Linked DNA regions of Homo sapiens. The protein of the gene in region 2 purifies or fractionates together with the protein of the main gene of each other region. This does not show direct contact. Each region holds a gene or a part of one and is shown on either strand. Other genes may lie near its edges.

What was found.
Region 1: the proteins of MYO19 (region 2) and MYL12B purify together in Homo sapiens (co-immunoprecipitation; 2 studies listed by BioGRID and IntAct, with this or other methods). This does not show direct contact.

What each region holds. Positions count from the first base shown.
Region 1 is NC_000018.10:3,257,268-3,265,375, reverse strand, and holds the start of MYL12B (myosin regulatory light chain 12B), read right to left. Parts: upstream 3,244-8,108; 5' UTR 3,139-3,243; exon of another isoform or gene 3,017-3,138; intron 2,764-3,016; exon of another isoform or gene 2,592-2,763; intron 1-2,591. UniProt on the Homo sapiens protein: Myosin regulatory subunit that plays an important role in regulation of both smooth muscle and nonmuscle cell contractile activity via its phosphorylation. Phosphorylation triggers actin polymerization in vascular smooth muscle.
Region 2 is NC_000017.11:36,510,809-36,518,076, forward strand, and holds part of MYO19 (unconventional myosin-XIX), read right to left. Parts: intron 5,183-7,268; coding exon 5,050-5,182; intron 4,375-5,049; coding exon 4,305-4,374; intron 3,741-4,304; coding exon 3,638-3,740; intron 2,918-3,637; coding exon 2,821-2,917; intron 2,698-2,820; coding exon 2,621-2,697; coding exon of another isoform or gene 2,561-2,620; exon of another isoform or gene 2,278-2,560; intron 2,076-2,277; coding exon of another isoform or gene 2,066-2,075; intron 1,972-2,065; coding exon of another isoform or gene 1,850-1,971; intron 648-1,849; coding exon 557-647; coding exon of another isoform or gene 551-556; intron 110-550; coding exon 1-109. UniProt on the Homo sapiens protein: Actin-based motor molecule with ATPase activity that localizes to the mitochondrion outer membrane. Motor protein that moves towards the plus-end of actin filaments. Required for mitochondrial inheritance during mitosis.

The DNA.
Region 1 (8,108 bases), on a different chromosome or scaffold from region 2:
GTTATTACTGTAGTCAAGTTGAATGTTCTAACTGGAAGACTCAAATGACTGGATATATAAGCAACAGTCCGAAAACAGCAGTCATAAACAGAATTTAGTATATATCAAGTTAAAAATACTTCACAAAAGTAACCTCATCTACCTAATGACATATAATTGCTTTTGTGCTGCATATTTAGGCAAAAAAATAGTTCCATAAATTATTAGAAGTATTTTTTTTAGGGAGCCAAACTCAATTTTTTCAACTTTTTTTAACACCAGGGAAGCATTTCCCCTAGTACTCTATATGTATTTTAACACTTACCACATACACATTATAACAATGACATTTCTTTCTCTATTATAGGTTTTATGATCATTACAGTTGGCTGCAAACTTTCTATTCTCTGAGCTCCTATATCATTTTGTTTTACTGCAGTGAAATTTATATAGTCAAATGTACAAACCTTAATAAGTTTTTATAATGTGTATACCCATGTAACCATCACCCCCATTAAGTTACAAATGTTAACACTGTTCCAGAAAATTCTCTCCAAGTTAATCACCATCTCCCATAGGCAACCACTGTTCAGATTTCTATCACCATAGATTAGTTTTGTTTTTGAACTTCTTATAAATGGAATTGTACAGTATATATTCATATATATGCCTGTCTTCTTTCATTCAATACAATGTTTTTGAAATTCACCTCTCTTATTGGGTTTATGGCACAATCATAGTTCACTGTAGCCTTGAACTCCTGGACTCAAGTGATCCTCCTGACTCAGCCTCGAGCAGCTGGGACTACAGGCATGAGTCACCATACACAGCTACTTTGCAAGGAGTGGGTGGCAGGGTAGAGACAGGGTCTCGCTATGTTGCCCAGGTTGGTCTTGAACCCCTGGCTTCAAATGATCCCCCCACATTGGCTTCTCAAAGCATTAGGATTACAGGTATGAGCCACCATGCCTGGCCATATTCATTCTTTTTATTGCCTTTTGCCTTTCCACCTTGGACTGCAGAACTTAGCAGTGTGCCTTGCACATGGCAGGTGCTCAAATAATCCTAGTTAAGCAAATACATATATATATGTATAAATATATGTATAGTATACACAGTTGTATATAGTGTATATACATATATAGTTCTTTCCTGTCACAAACAGAATTACACATATATGTTCATTACAAGGTAGGTCCCGGATCTGAATTCCAACATGAGGCTTTTCTCTACGGTCTACCTATGGTTCCAGTCTCTTCCCCAAGAGATCCCTAAGGAAACTTAGTAGCTACCCACTGCTCCATACCTGGAAGAAGCAGTAGCAACCAGGGACAACTGGGTGCTAAAGATGTGCCAGGCACTGATTTAAGCATTTTGTATGTGTTAACACATTTAATCCTCACGACAACTCATCATATAGGTATTGTTATCATCCTCTTCTCTCAGATACGAAAATCAGGGTAAAGAGAATAAACAACTTGCCACACAGCTAGAAAATGGCAGAGCTCAGTCAGGATCTGTACTCAGGAAATCTAGCTCCAGAGCTTGAACCACTAGCCAGTAACATCCTGCATACAGGCAGCTGAAATTCTCTACCATGAAAATGTGGATACCTGGGCATAACAAGCAATGACACCCCAAAGCTAATGTGTAGAATGAGGAAGGAAGATCACAAAGATGCTGGCAAAAAGGGTATGATAAACTCATCCCCAGATATACCTGGAGCCTTTGAATCTTGGGAGAAAGGGAAAACTAGCCCCATGTCGGGGCTCTAAATCCTGTTCTTTCCTAACCCTAGCAACTCTTGTCTGGACATCTGTCCTTCAGAAATTGCAGTTCATCTTGTTCAAGCTTAGTTTCATCAAAGCATAAACGAACATCGAGTCAGCCATCATAAAAGCTGTTTCACTCAAAAGAGCCTAAAGCACTCAAAAGTGCTCTTAGTTATAAAGTCCAGGAGGGTCCACCACCTTCGACAAATTACCTCACCTCTCTGGGTTTCACTTTCCTCAGTTATAAAACGCAAAGCCTTCACAAGGTAATCTATCAGGTCCTACTGAATTCTAAATGCTTTGATTCTTCTCTTACCAAAAGACCATTCCAAATCTACCTTAAACTAAAGCGGCCAAACGAATCCTCTAAACATCCCTTTCTTATTACTCCGTTAGTGAAGACTCCAAAATTACTCTCTATGGCTTCTTAGATAATCTTTTCTTTCTCCTAAGTTTTCAAGACATCCATAAGAAGGTCCTACTTACCTATCTACCCTTATTTCCGACTATTAGTCATTACAGTTCTGTTCCATACCCGCCGGTGTCCCCACGGCCTGCTTTTCACAGGACACAATTCCCAGCTTTTGAGTTTTGCTCGTTACCACCTCCCACACATCTAGCCGGAAACGCTAAGTTCTCCCTCTTAAGGTTGAATCCAAGGCCTTCAGTGAGGTCACGACTCTTTTCCAAGTAACCTTTCCCTATTTCTGTTAATGGTCCTTTCTTCAATCAACACGAATAAACTAAACCTTTACAAGATGCAAGACACACTGAGCGAATTACAACTCTATGTAAATCATCACATTTGAGCCCGTATCAACCACACACTCGGTTACCGGCATGCTAATGGCTTCCTTGGAGGCTTCACCTTAGGCAAGACCGTGCAACAGGAGGCTCCTCCACCCTCCAAAGCATCTAGGATAGTGTTGGGCACAGGGCAGGTGCTCCACACGAACACGCCCGGGTCGGCCCCAATCCACCGCCAGGACCCGCCGCGGCGCCGGGAGGGCAGGCGTTGGCCGCCGGGCAGCCGGGCCGTCCAAGGCCCAGGTGTCTGAGGTCACCCAGGTGGCGCAGGGCCGGCCCACGCACGGCCGGGACCCGGCCACTTCTCCAGCAGGGCGTCTCCCCATACCGGCTCCATCGCCTGCAGCCTCCCGGCCCCTGGACGTCCGGGCCAGGGCCTCGCCACCAACCCTCCTCCCGCCGCCAACCCTCCTCCCTCCACCTCCGGCCCCGCGCCCCCTTCTCAGCCAGTCTGACAGGTCCTGCCGCCGCCTGGCCGCCCTGGGGCGGGGTCCGGCCGCAGGCGCGCGACGGGAGGGGGCGCGGGGGTACGGAGACGGCGGCCCGAGGGGTCTCGCGAGCAGAGTCGAGCGCGACTCACCCGACGCCAAACACCAGAACCGGGGCCGCCCTGCGCGAGACCACAAACGACAGCGAAGAGCGTTAGGCTGTGGCCGGACAGTGGCGGCGCCGACACTTCCTGCCTGAAGGGGCGGAGCGGAAGGCGCACCGGAAGGCGCACCGGAAGGCGCACCGGAAGGCGCGGCGGGACCAAGTGGAACGGGGGTGCGCTGAGTGTTCGCGCCCGGGCCGGCGGGGTCTGCGTGTCCGCCGAGCGGCGGGGCTGCTGAGGCCGGACGCACACGGCCGGGGTCTTAATTGCCCCTCCGGCCTGCTCCGATCCGCTGCGATATCGCGGCCTGCGCTGCGGCGGTCGTCCGCAGCCCGGCCCTCGTCCCCCGCTCCTTTGGTAGCTCCGCCACCCTTCCGCATTCCTGGGCCCGCTGGGCGCGGCTGGGCAGGCCGCTGGAATTTGACCCGAGTGGGCCGCGATCGGCCGAGGATTTGGGGTCCCCTTTGACCCAGGCGGGGCGCGATCCGCCTAGGATTTGGGGTCCCCTGGCGCCGAACCCTGAGTTGCCAGATGTAGCAAGTAAAAGTACAGTTCTTCTAAATTTGAATTTCAGACAAGACAGGTTTTAGGGTTCGTCTCATGTAATGTTGAGAAGGTGAGGGCGGCGCCTGGGCGGATTCTTCTCCGTTCCAGAATCCCTTTCTCTTTTCAAACCGCATTACAGCCCGAGTTAAATTCTTTAACCTACTCCTCTCTGCTTACCCTCATAAGGTTTACGGCCGTATCAGGCTACGGCCGCAGCCTACGGCTGTTTGATTCCCCTTTTGGCCACAAGAAAGTTTTATTCGAACTACTTGCTTTCCTTTATCAAGAAAATGGCAACGCACACACATACATGCACACACAAATAAAAACACAAAGCTACGTTTTTCAGGTTTTGTTCTAGATCGTGTTTGTGGCTGTGTTCTTCAGGATATTTTCCCTCACCTTGAGGTAATCTAGCATTACTTCATCTAGCATTACTAAAATAGCATTACTTCAGGATGGTGGAGGATCGGCAATCTAATAGCAAATCTTTATTGAACTCTTCTTACTGCCTTAACATGTGCCGGATGCTGAGAGATGAATTCAAAGCCTCTTAGGGAGTTTATATTCTAGAAATCTTTGATCAGAAATTCCTAGAAGAGAGGGACCTTGTGTTCAGCACTCTGTAGCAGTTCTTAAACAGTAGCACGCATAATAACAGGGCTTTTAAAAACATTTTTGAGCCTCAAAACCGGGTATCAGGATTCAGTGAGTAAGGGGTGGAGGATAATTCGAATTTCTGGTAAGCACACATGATGCTGATGGGGTGGTCGCCATCCCAGCAGCACAGCTCTAAACGCGGTTCATAACTGTGTGTATTTTCTCAATAGTGTTAGAAAAGCAATTGCTGAAAAGTCACACCTGGTTCTACAATATTTACTCTTAGGTTTTGGTTCGATAGTCTAAATTAAAAAAAAAAAAGTTTCTAGAATTGTGCTGTCCAATACAATCGTCACTAACCACATGCAGCTAAACTTAAATTTAGTTCCTCAGTTGTATTTGATACGTTTTATTTTTAGAGATGGGGTCACCCTATGTTGCCTAACCTGGAATGCACTGGCTATTCACAGGCGTGATCATAATGCACTACAACCTGGAACTCCTGGCCTCAAGCGATCCTCTCACTTGAGCCTCCCAAGTAGTTGGGACTACAGGTGAGAGACACCGCACCAGTGCGTCTGGCAGTATTAGACACTTTTTTTTTTCTTGAGACGGAGTCTTGCTCCGTCGCCCAGGCTGGAGTGCAGTGGTTTGATCTCGGCTCACTGCAACCTCTGCCTCCCGGGTTCATGTGATTCTTCTGCCTTAGCCTCCCGAGTAGCAGGGACTACAGGCCTGTGCCACGACGCCCAGCTAATTTTTGTATTTTTAGTAGAGACGGGGTTTCACCATGTTGGCCAGGATGGTCTCAATCTCTTGTCCTCATGATCCGCCCACCTGGGCCTCCAAAAGTGCTGGGATTACAGGCGTGAGCCACCGCGCCTGGCTAGTATTAGACACATTTTAAGTGCTCAATAGCCACATGTGGTTAGTGTCCTTATTGTATGGCACAGAGAGCATTTCCTTAATTACAGAAGCTTCTATTTGACAGCACTATTCTGAAGAAATAATTCTAAGGTATATTGTTCTCTCTAGATGCAAAAGAAAAGCCTATAATAGGCTTTGTTTAATCATGAATAAAAATTTATTCACTAATAAAAATAGCTGGATAGCTAAATATCTATCATTGGGAAATTGTTAATTATAGCATGCCCACATCAAAGATAACTGAAGTTAAGAATGGTTGAAAAAGAAATATACTCAAAACAATGGTGGCTATGCCAAAACATGAGATATAATTTAAGTAGTAAACGAAAAAACAAGTTGTAAACTCATTACAACTCTAAAATGTGTGTGGATAAATACTGGAGAAAAGTCACATTTCCTGCTATTTGAGCAGACACAGAGAAATCTAGACTAAAAAGATATAGGGACTTGGAAGATGGAAGAGCAAGTGGAAATGACTCGAATAAGCAGCAATGGGAAAACTGGGCATTTCTTCAATGTGGGATTAGCTACTACAATCCCTTTATGGACAGAAAAAATAAACTGTACCCGTGAAGAGGACCTAATTCGACACACACAAGTCTGGCATATTGGACCTGCTCAGGAAATCGAAAGTGAACTATTTCAGAATCCACTAGTACCAAACTGACAGGCATTTGTATGCATAGTCTTATAAAATCTTCCTAACAACCTGTTAATGAAATTCTACCTTGAAATCCATCCACTTTTCTAAGGGCAATCCTACGTGGTCTAGGTTCTGTCACATCCTAGCTCTTAGACATGATCCATTTTGTTTCACTAATTGTTCCCCCCTAGTTTGTTGTCTTCTACTCTGCCTATAAACAGGCTTGAATTTGAAGATATGCCCTTTGCCCCTTCTCACTGGCCCACTCGTAAACAAAATAACTACTATTTGGAGACCTAATGTGTCCCAGACCATTTGTCTTTCATGCTTCTAATTTTCAGAAGAAACTTGGATGGTATTGGCCATTTTACAGATGAGGAAACTGGCAATTAAGAACACAAAGTCAAATAGGCAGGTGCAATTCACTTAAGTATGGCTCCAAATCCGTGCTGCTCTTAATCACACAAATGCTGCTTTATATATTATGTTCCTAATATGAACCAACAGTATTATTTCCGTTTTATAAATGAATAAATAGGCCAAGGAAGTTTAAATAACTGACTTAAGGTTATAGAGCCATGACGTAGCAACAAACGGGAATTAAGTGTAGGTCTGCCTGACCCCACACCTAGGCATTATTCACTATCCTGTGCTGCATTATGGATTCTGCACTCAGAACTCTAATAACTCTAGCAAACATGACTAACGACTTGTCACATCTGGGAGGGTCTCATTTAAACCTTCCCATACTCCACTTTTCTGTGTTGGACACTGCCAACCTCCTTACTCTTGAAATTAACTAGGTTTCCGTAAGACTGTTTTTGTGGCTCTATTTACCTCTCCAAACTCTGATCATTTTTTATCTGATCCTCAAGTCTAGGTGTTAAGCCTCTTGCTGTCCTTCCTCTTTTCACTTTGTAGCAAATGGTTTCCTTTCCTTCTCAATTTGCTGTTACTTGTCTCTTATGCTCAGGCCTTCCTCCTTTCTTTCCCAGGAGCATTCAATTCCTGCTCTCATCAAGTTATAGATTCTTTCATCAAGTAAAATTTGGGGCCTGGAATCAAAATGACCATATCATCATATGCAGGTGGATAAGGATGCCACCCCCATTAGGCTGGTTTTGTCCGATTTTTGTTTTCTTTTTCAAGACAGGGTCTCGCTGTCACCCCAGGCTGGAGTACAGTGGCACAGTCAGCTCACTCCAGCCTCAAACTCCTGGGCTCAAGCAATCCTTCCACCTTAGCTTCCAGAGTAGCTGGGACTATAGGCACCCACCACCATGTCCGGCTAATTTTTAATTTTTATGTAGAGATGGGGTTTTGCTTTGTTGCCCAGGCTGATGTCAATCTTCTGGCTTCAAGCAGTCTTCCTACTTCGACCTTCCAAAGTGCTGGGATTACAGATGTGCGCCAACGTGCCTAGCCAGATCTTTTGAAATGGTTTAAGTATGACTTTCATCATGGAAACTTTTGAGACTGATTTTTCAGTCAAACACACCATTGAAATGGATGCTTTTACCTTTCTGTTGGCAATCACTCTTGTTTAAGCAAAGAATGCTATTACTAAATTAGGAGAATTATTTCATTCAGGGTACATCATTGTTCTTAATGCAAGTTGGTTCATTAAGCACTTATCTGAAAGGGAAACAGGGGCCCTGCAAGAGATCCTTTTAGTAGTACCTTGTTTTTCATATAGTGCAAACAATGCTATCTGTTCTTCACTAGAGATGTAACAAAGCATATGATAATTTTTTCTCTTGACATGGAAATTCAATTCAAAAAACAAGATTTTAGCACCATGGCCATAGCCTGGAAAAAGTATTTTGGCTTAACCAGTGAATAAAATTCAGAAACAAAAGACAAAGAATGAAGGCAGGTTCTAAGATTCTAATGCTGAAGAGGTCAAGGACTAGCTTTGACTAGTCCTTCTATTCCTATAGCACTGGCCTTCCCACGTTACAGGATCTAGCTGATCTATCTTATTGGCTGCAAAGGCCTGCTGCCCAGAAGGCTTTTAGTAATTGTTTACTGAATGAGGTAATGGTTTTGTCCAAGGAGAGTCATGTTAATCGTAGCATAAAACTTAAAGTTATTATAGTAATTGTCAATTACTCATCTTCATAGGCTAATTGTCAAATCTTTTCAACCAAATTTTTCTCCATTTCAAATCTTTTAAAACTCATGCTCTTTGAGAGTCAGAGTTTTGGGCTGGGCATGGTTGCTCACACCTGTAATCCCAGCA
Region 2 (7,268 bases):
TTCCGGAACACCTGCTGCTGTCTGCCTGCCCTGATGGTTCTAATCTGCACCATCTCCAGCAGCACGTCCTCTGGGAGCCCCAGCAGCGAGGCTGCCGTCCTGACAGAGTCTGGGAGGGGCAAATCCTCTTTAGGCAAATCACTCTCCATCCAGTCCTCTTCACGAGGCACTGTGAAGTCATCACAGCGGGACCATGACTTGCCCAACTGGACAGAAGAAACCTAAGTTCTGATCAGTGAAGTGACTCACCCAAAGGACTCCATAAACAGCAGTCAGAACTCAAACCCAGCACTTTCATGTACCAGTCCATGCTGCCATGTATGGGACAAATCACTTTACAAACCTCTGACTCATTTTCTCATCTTTAAGATGGGGACGATACTGTCTGCCTCACCAGACAGGGTGAGGAGTAAATGATCCAGGGCCAGGCCCTATGGTGGGTGGCATAAGCAAGGGCATCAGATTCCAATTTTCACCATCCAGCCTTCCACCCAACCCCAGCAATGCTGGCTACCTTCCTGACAGGGCCTGCCCCATCCTACACCCTGACCCTCACACTTGGCATCATCCATCGGCTGGCAGGGCTGGGCTTCATCCTCGGAGGCAGCAAACTGGATATTGCCAAGGTGCAGCAGTCCAGCTAGGACCTGGGGGAAAGAAAAGGATGGGTGGGAGTAGGAGAGGGCGTGACGTGGGCCTACTCTGGGAAGGGCCGTTCTGCTGAGTACAATCACGACAGCAGAAGGGCAGCTCCCAATCATGGCCCAAGTGCCCATCTCTGCCAGACACAATTCTATACAAGTTACATGCATCGCCTCATTGCAACTTTTCAACAACCTGTAAGGTATGTGCTACGCCACTGCCTATGATAGAGATGAGACTGAGGACACGTGCTTCCTGAGGGGAAAGGTGGGATGAGAACCCAGGCTGACTTCAGATGTCTCCTGGGGCAGCCTGTGGGCCTCCATGCCCACCCATCCTCTACATTTCTGCCCCCTGCTCTCTAGGAATAGACTGGTGACTGGGGGCAGGGCTGCTTCTGTGTGCCTGCTGGAGGCTTGTCTCTGCTTCCTTGAGCCCTTTCCCACTGTCAGGCTTCTGAGAGCCCAGCCTGCTGGAGGCACTGTGACCTTGGTCTGTGTCCGATGGGTGCCCCTTTGCCTTTGTACTCAATGTTCCACACCGACAAGCCCCCTGGGGCTATAGACAGAAGCTCCCCTCACCCCACCAAGGCCCAGCAACTTCAAAACCCTCAGACCCAGCTAGGCATGGTGGCACACGCTTGTAATTCCAGCACTCTGGGAGGCTGAGGCAGGTGGATCACTTGAAGTCAGAAGTTTAAGACCAGCCTGACCAATATGGTGAACCTCCATCTCTACTAAAAATAAACACACACACACACACACACACACACACACACACACACACAAAATTAGCTGGGTGTGGTGGCACATGCCTGTAATCCCAGCTACTCGGAGGCTGAGGTAGGAGAATCACTTGAACCCGGGAAGAGGAGGTTGCAGTGAGCTGAGATTGTGCCACTGCACTCTAGACTGGGCAACTAGAGTAAAACTCCATCTCAAAAAAAAAAAAAAAAAAGAAAAAACCACCACCCTCAGACCTGACACAGGGACCCCACCCACCATTCCTATATGGTCCCAGGCAGGGTGCCTCCATGTGCTACTGGTCTTCCGGCCACAACTTGCTCCAGAAGACTGCCATGCCCACCAGGCAGAAGGGCTGTGGCAGAGGGTCATGCCCACCCCCAAAGCACTCCTGCCCCGACTCCCAGTGTTGTCCACTTATCCTGGGCTTGTCCCCAGGTACTGTCCTTCTGTCAAGTTCTTACCTGGCAGTGTCTGAGCAGCCCCCATCTGGAGGTGAGGGTCACTTTCCACTGCATTGCTACCTCCCTGAAGTGGCCTCCCTTTCTCGACTGCCAGGCCATCCTATCTATCCCCTCCTGCTGCTCTAGAGGGTGAGGAAGATGAGAGGAGGTAGTCAGCTCTGTCAGCAAAGACAGAAGGGAGGCCCCCCTAGTGTGACTGAGAGGAGCCCAGCTCACCTGGGGCAGTCTCATGTTCCAGAGGACGACGGGGCACGGGTTGGGGGAAGACAGAGAGGGTAGGAACTTGGAATTACTATGTCTGGTACTCTGTATCACCACTTAGTGGTATCTGACCTTGGGCACGTCACTTTACCTCTCTGGTTTTCTCAGGCATAAAGGGAAATAAACACACACAGAGGACTGTTTAAAAAACTAAGTGAGCAGAGAAGTGTGAACATGACTTGTAAGTTTTAATGTACTAGACAAGCAAGGCGGTAGCACTAGTTCTCTCTTCTGATCATGCGGTACCTTGCTCTCTGCCCCCATGGATCACTTACTGCATTCTGTACTCTAGCACTGTGTATGCATCACTCTTCCTTATGCCCCGTCCACCCCACCACCTGGTCTCCAGACTCAGCAGAACAGAGGTGACTGATTCCTTGGAGGTAGCACAGAAGGGCCCAAAGTCCTAGATCCTCAGGGAAAGACCAACTCCAAGTCCAGGGAAAAGCTCTATGCAAAGGGCTGCCCGTCATCTCTGCCAAACTTAAGTGGCGTGGCTTTTCTTCTGACCTTAAAGATGTTGTTCTGGGTAGGGGTGTCAATGCCCAAATGGAGCATGGCCTCTCTGGTCACCTCAAAACAATCCTCTGAAAAAGAATCCAAGTTCGGGGCAGAGGTCAGCAGCAGCAAGATGCGAGGGAGGCAGGCTCTGTACAGAGTGGGTGGGTGATGCTGGGTCAGCGCAAGGTGCTGGATGGGGCTCCCCTTACCTTCTAAGCTCCTCTCTGGGTTGGGCAGCCAGGAGAAGGCAGCTCCCTCAGGAAGGTGCCACTGGAGCCTCTCGTCCTCACTGGCTCCTTTGCAAATCTGTGGAGAAGGGTAGGTGGGAGGCTGGGTAGGGGGTCTGAGAAAAGCCCAGGCCTGCATAGGCAGGCATGGGGTTGGGATAAGAGGAGAGTTGGTAGCAACATCACAAGGCTCAGAGGTCCCTTCCGAGAGCCCACGGCAGGTATGGGGGCAAAAGATGCCGTAAACATAGCCCTGGATGTCTCCAACCTGATGCAAAAGAACCTTGCTCTAGGGAAACCTGCAGTCTGGTGAAAAAAGGACAACTCCTGCCCAGGGAGTCCGTCGTCTTGACGTGGGAGGCATACCCATCACCTAAGGATGCTCCGATTTTGAGAGAAAGGGAGATATCCTATCCATGCCTTGGGGGACTCCCAGTCCGATGGAAAAGGCACAACTCTAGGGAAGCCCTTGTTCTGTTAGCGACAGATGCCATTCTAGGAGAGCCCTTAAAATGATAAGAGTGACACGGCTTCCACCCTAGAGATACAGTCCCAGCCTCAAGGACCTTCTGGTCTGATGGAGGAGGTAAAACATACTCCCAGGCCACAACTGTGCTGGGAGCCAAGGCGCAGTGTGAGGCAGAAGTGCTGCATGTAAAGTCTGCAGGATAAAGTGGTGGCTCCATCAAAAGCTAGGTGAAGGAACCAGGTATGGAGCATTCTGGGGAGTGGGGGGTTGAAAAACACGGACCCATCCCTGTCTCGCATCTGGGGGGCTGTGGCCCCATTTGGCACAAACCTGATAGAAGATGTGGAAGTTCCTCTCACTGGAAGCCTGGCAGGCCACTCGAGTTTTCTCTAGGAGGTAGGTCTGGACTGCGGCTCCAGTCATTTGCTGAGCCCTGGGACACACACAGGCCAGAGCCCGTTAGTTGCCCATTCATTCCATAGCCATGTCTGGCAATCTGGGTGTGCCAGATTGCCTGCTACCTGGCAACTCCCCGCCAAGCTCTTCCACTTAGCCAATGGGCACTGAGGGGTGGGGACCACTCAGAATGTCCTTGGGTGTCCTGGAATATTCCCCTGCATCTAGCTCAGGTGGGCAGGGCCAAGGCCTCTGCACATCACTTTGCTCTACCCCAAGACAGGAGTCGAAGTCTCAGCCTCAAGCTCAGGGATATGGTCCAAAGAGGTGGCAATTTAGCTTGAAGTCCCTGAGCAAGAGTAAAAGCCAGGAGGAACCCAGGCCTGAATAAGCGCACTGCCCCAGGGTTCCCCAAGGGGAGAGGAGCTATAGTTCTCCAGGTGCAAAGATCACCCTCAGAGCTCACACCTGAGGTAAAGGGCATGCACCAGGAGGAGCAGGGTTTTTGCCCATAGGGGTGGCCCAGGCCAGATACTGCCCCAGCCACTTTCAACCTCCCCAGTCCCATCCTCCCACTAGCCAGGGCAACAGCAGCTATTACCTGTTCAGCTGGAGCTGGATGAACTTCCCAAAGCGACTGCTGTTGTTATTCCTCAGTGTACACGCATTCCCTACAGATCACACCTATGTTTATTTCACTCCCCTGGGTTTGCAGAGTCCTCATAAGCCAAGGTGGCTGCAGGTCTCTGGAGGTCATGTTCCCGTGCTCAAGTCACCTAAAGGCCCCTTTGTTGGTTTTCATGTCATAGGGGACAGGACTAGAAAATGGGCCCTCATGCTTTAGCAAGTGGGATTCAGGGGAGTTAGAAGAAATTCCTGGCAAGAAATTGGAATGAGCAAGCCTAGGCAGTCAGGGACCTTTCTTTGAAGGGAAAGGTCAAAAACAATCAGCTGTCACTACTGACTTTAGACAGGAAGGCACATCTGGGTTCCAGTGCCAACACAAACACTAATCACCTTGTATCCCTTAACAAGTACCCTTCATTGAACCATCAGGAAACTGGATAGAAAGACAGAATTTGGACGAGCTAAGCCACCAGGTCTTCTCCAGCACGACTGTTATGTGTGCCTAGGCTGGAGCGAGGAAGAGGACTGAATGACATGACCTCTGTTAGAATGATGCTAAGGAGTACCAGGGAGAGGTTGGGGATCTGAGGCAGTGAAGGATACACTCATCCTCCACCCCCACCCAAGAGAGGGTCTCAAAGCACTGTCCCTCTCCCTGGAAGGTGGAAAATCCCAGAGGAAATGGGACTGAGATACTGTGCAAAGGAGCCCAAGCTCACCAAAAGCTTCCATGACAGGGTTGGAGTTCAGGATCCTCTGTTCTATCCTCTCTGCAATCTTGTGGCTCTCCCAAGATGCAGGTGAGGTGGCCACCACAGCATAGAACTTCATTAGGCAGCGAGACGTCCATGTCTGTGGCAGAAACAGCCCTGTGGGAGCTGTATCTATGCTCCCGCCCACTTCTGAGCCTGCCTGAGAGAACAGTGCCCACCAGAGCTCTCTTCTCCACCAGTGTGTTGCTGACAAAATGGGTGAAGGCAGAATTCAACCCTGGCCTCAGGCAAGGCACTTCCTCTACCTCTGTTTGTAAAATGGGAGTAGACATCTGTTTCTCTCAGCTCTGTGGCAGACACTGAGCTATCGAGGCTTTCTGTGTATGTTTTTTTTGCAAACTCTGCAAAGGTGTGATTATACAATTGTTTATAAACAATAAAACCAAAGCATAGAAATTTAAAAATTTATTAAAAATCATGCATCTACTCAATGACAGGGCTCCCATTTATACCCAAGCAGTCTAACTTTTTTTTTCCGAGACGGAGTCTCATCTTGCCTCCCAGGCTGGAGTGCAATGGCACAATCTCAACTCTCTGCAACCTCTGCCTCCTGAGTTCAAGCGATTCTCCTGCCTCAGCCTCCCAAGTAGCTAGGATTACAGGCGCACGCCACCACGCCTGGCTAATTTTTTACATCTTTAGTAAAGACGGGGTTTCACCATGTTGGTGAGTCTGGTCTTGAGCTCCTGACCTCGTAATCTGCCCACCTTGGCCTCCCAAAGTGGGATTACAGGTGTGAGCCACCGCACCTGGCCCCAAGCAGTCTAATTTTAATTCATACTCTTGTTCTTAATCAGCTGAAGTGAGGTATACTTTCATTTTAACTTCTAATTGTTTGTGGCTAGGACATAGAAATACACTGTCTTTACATATTGACCTTGTATCCTATCACCTCACTAAACGCTCTACAACTTTTTAGTTGCAGTAAGGTGGCAACTTACTTTGTAGATTCTTTAGATTTTTCTTTGGGATCAGAGATATTTCTATCTTCTGAAAGACTTTATGTAGAACTGGTAACATTTCTTCCTTAAATGTTTGGTAGAATTCACAAGTGAAGCCACCAGGGCCTACAGCTTTCTCTGTGGGAGGGCTTTTAACTATGACTTCAATTTCTTTCAGAAATAGGGGCTATTCAGGTTCTTTTTCTTCTTGTGTGATCTTCAGCAGTTTGCGTTTCTCAAAATATTTCTCCATTTCATCTAAATTGTATAATTTCTTGGCATAAAGTTATTCAAAATATTATCTTAATCTGTAAGATCTATATTGATGTCTACTCCTTCATTCCTGATACTGGTGATTTACATCTTTTTTCTCTTTTTATAAGTCTGACTGGAGAGTTATCATTTTTTTGTTTGTTTGTCTTCTTTAGAGGCAAAGTCTTGCTGTCACCCAGGATGGAGTGCAGTGGCACGATCTCGGCTCACTGCAACCTCTGCCTCCGGGGTTCAAGTGATTCTCCTGCCTCAGCCTCCTGAGGAGCTGGGACTACAGGCGCTCGCCACCATGCCCAGCTAATTTTTGTATTTTTAGTAGAGACGGGCTTTCACCATGTTGGTCAGGCTGGTCTCTAACTTCTGACCTCAGGTGATCCACCCACCTTGGCCTCCCAAAGTGCTGGATTACAGGCGTGAGCCACTGCACCCAGTGAGTTATCATTTTATTCATCTTTTCAGAGAAAAGTCTTTTATTTCATTAATTTTTCTATTTTATTCATCTTTACTTTTTCCCTTCTTCTGCATACTTTGGGTTTATTCTGTTCCCCTCTAGCTTCTTAAGGTATGCCACAGACTGAATTGTGTTCCCCTCAAATTCATATTTTGAAGCCCTCACTCCCAATGTGACTGCATTTGGAGAAGGGATCTTCGGGAGGTAATTAAGATTAAATAAGGTAATGACGCCAGGTGCGGTGGCTCACGCCTGTAATCCCAGCACTTTGGGAGGCTGAGGTGGGTGGATTGCCTGAGTTCAGCAGTTCAAAACCAGCCTTGACCAACATGGTGAAACCCTGTCTCTACTAAAAATACAAAACTTATCTGGGTGTCATGGCATCCACCTGTAATTCCAGCTACTAGGGAGACTGAGGCAGGAGAATCGCTTGAACCCGGGAGGCGCAGGTTGCAGTGAGCTGAGCTCGCACCGTTGCACTCCAGCCTGGGCAACAATAG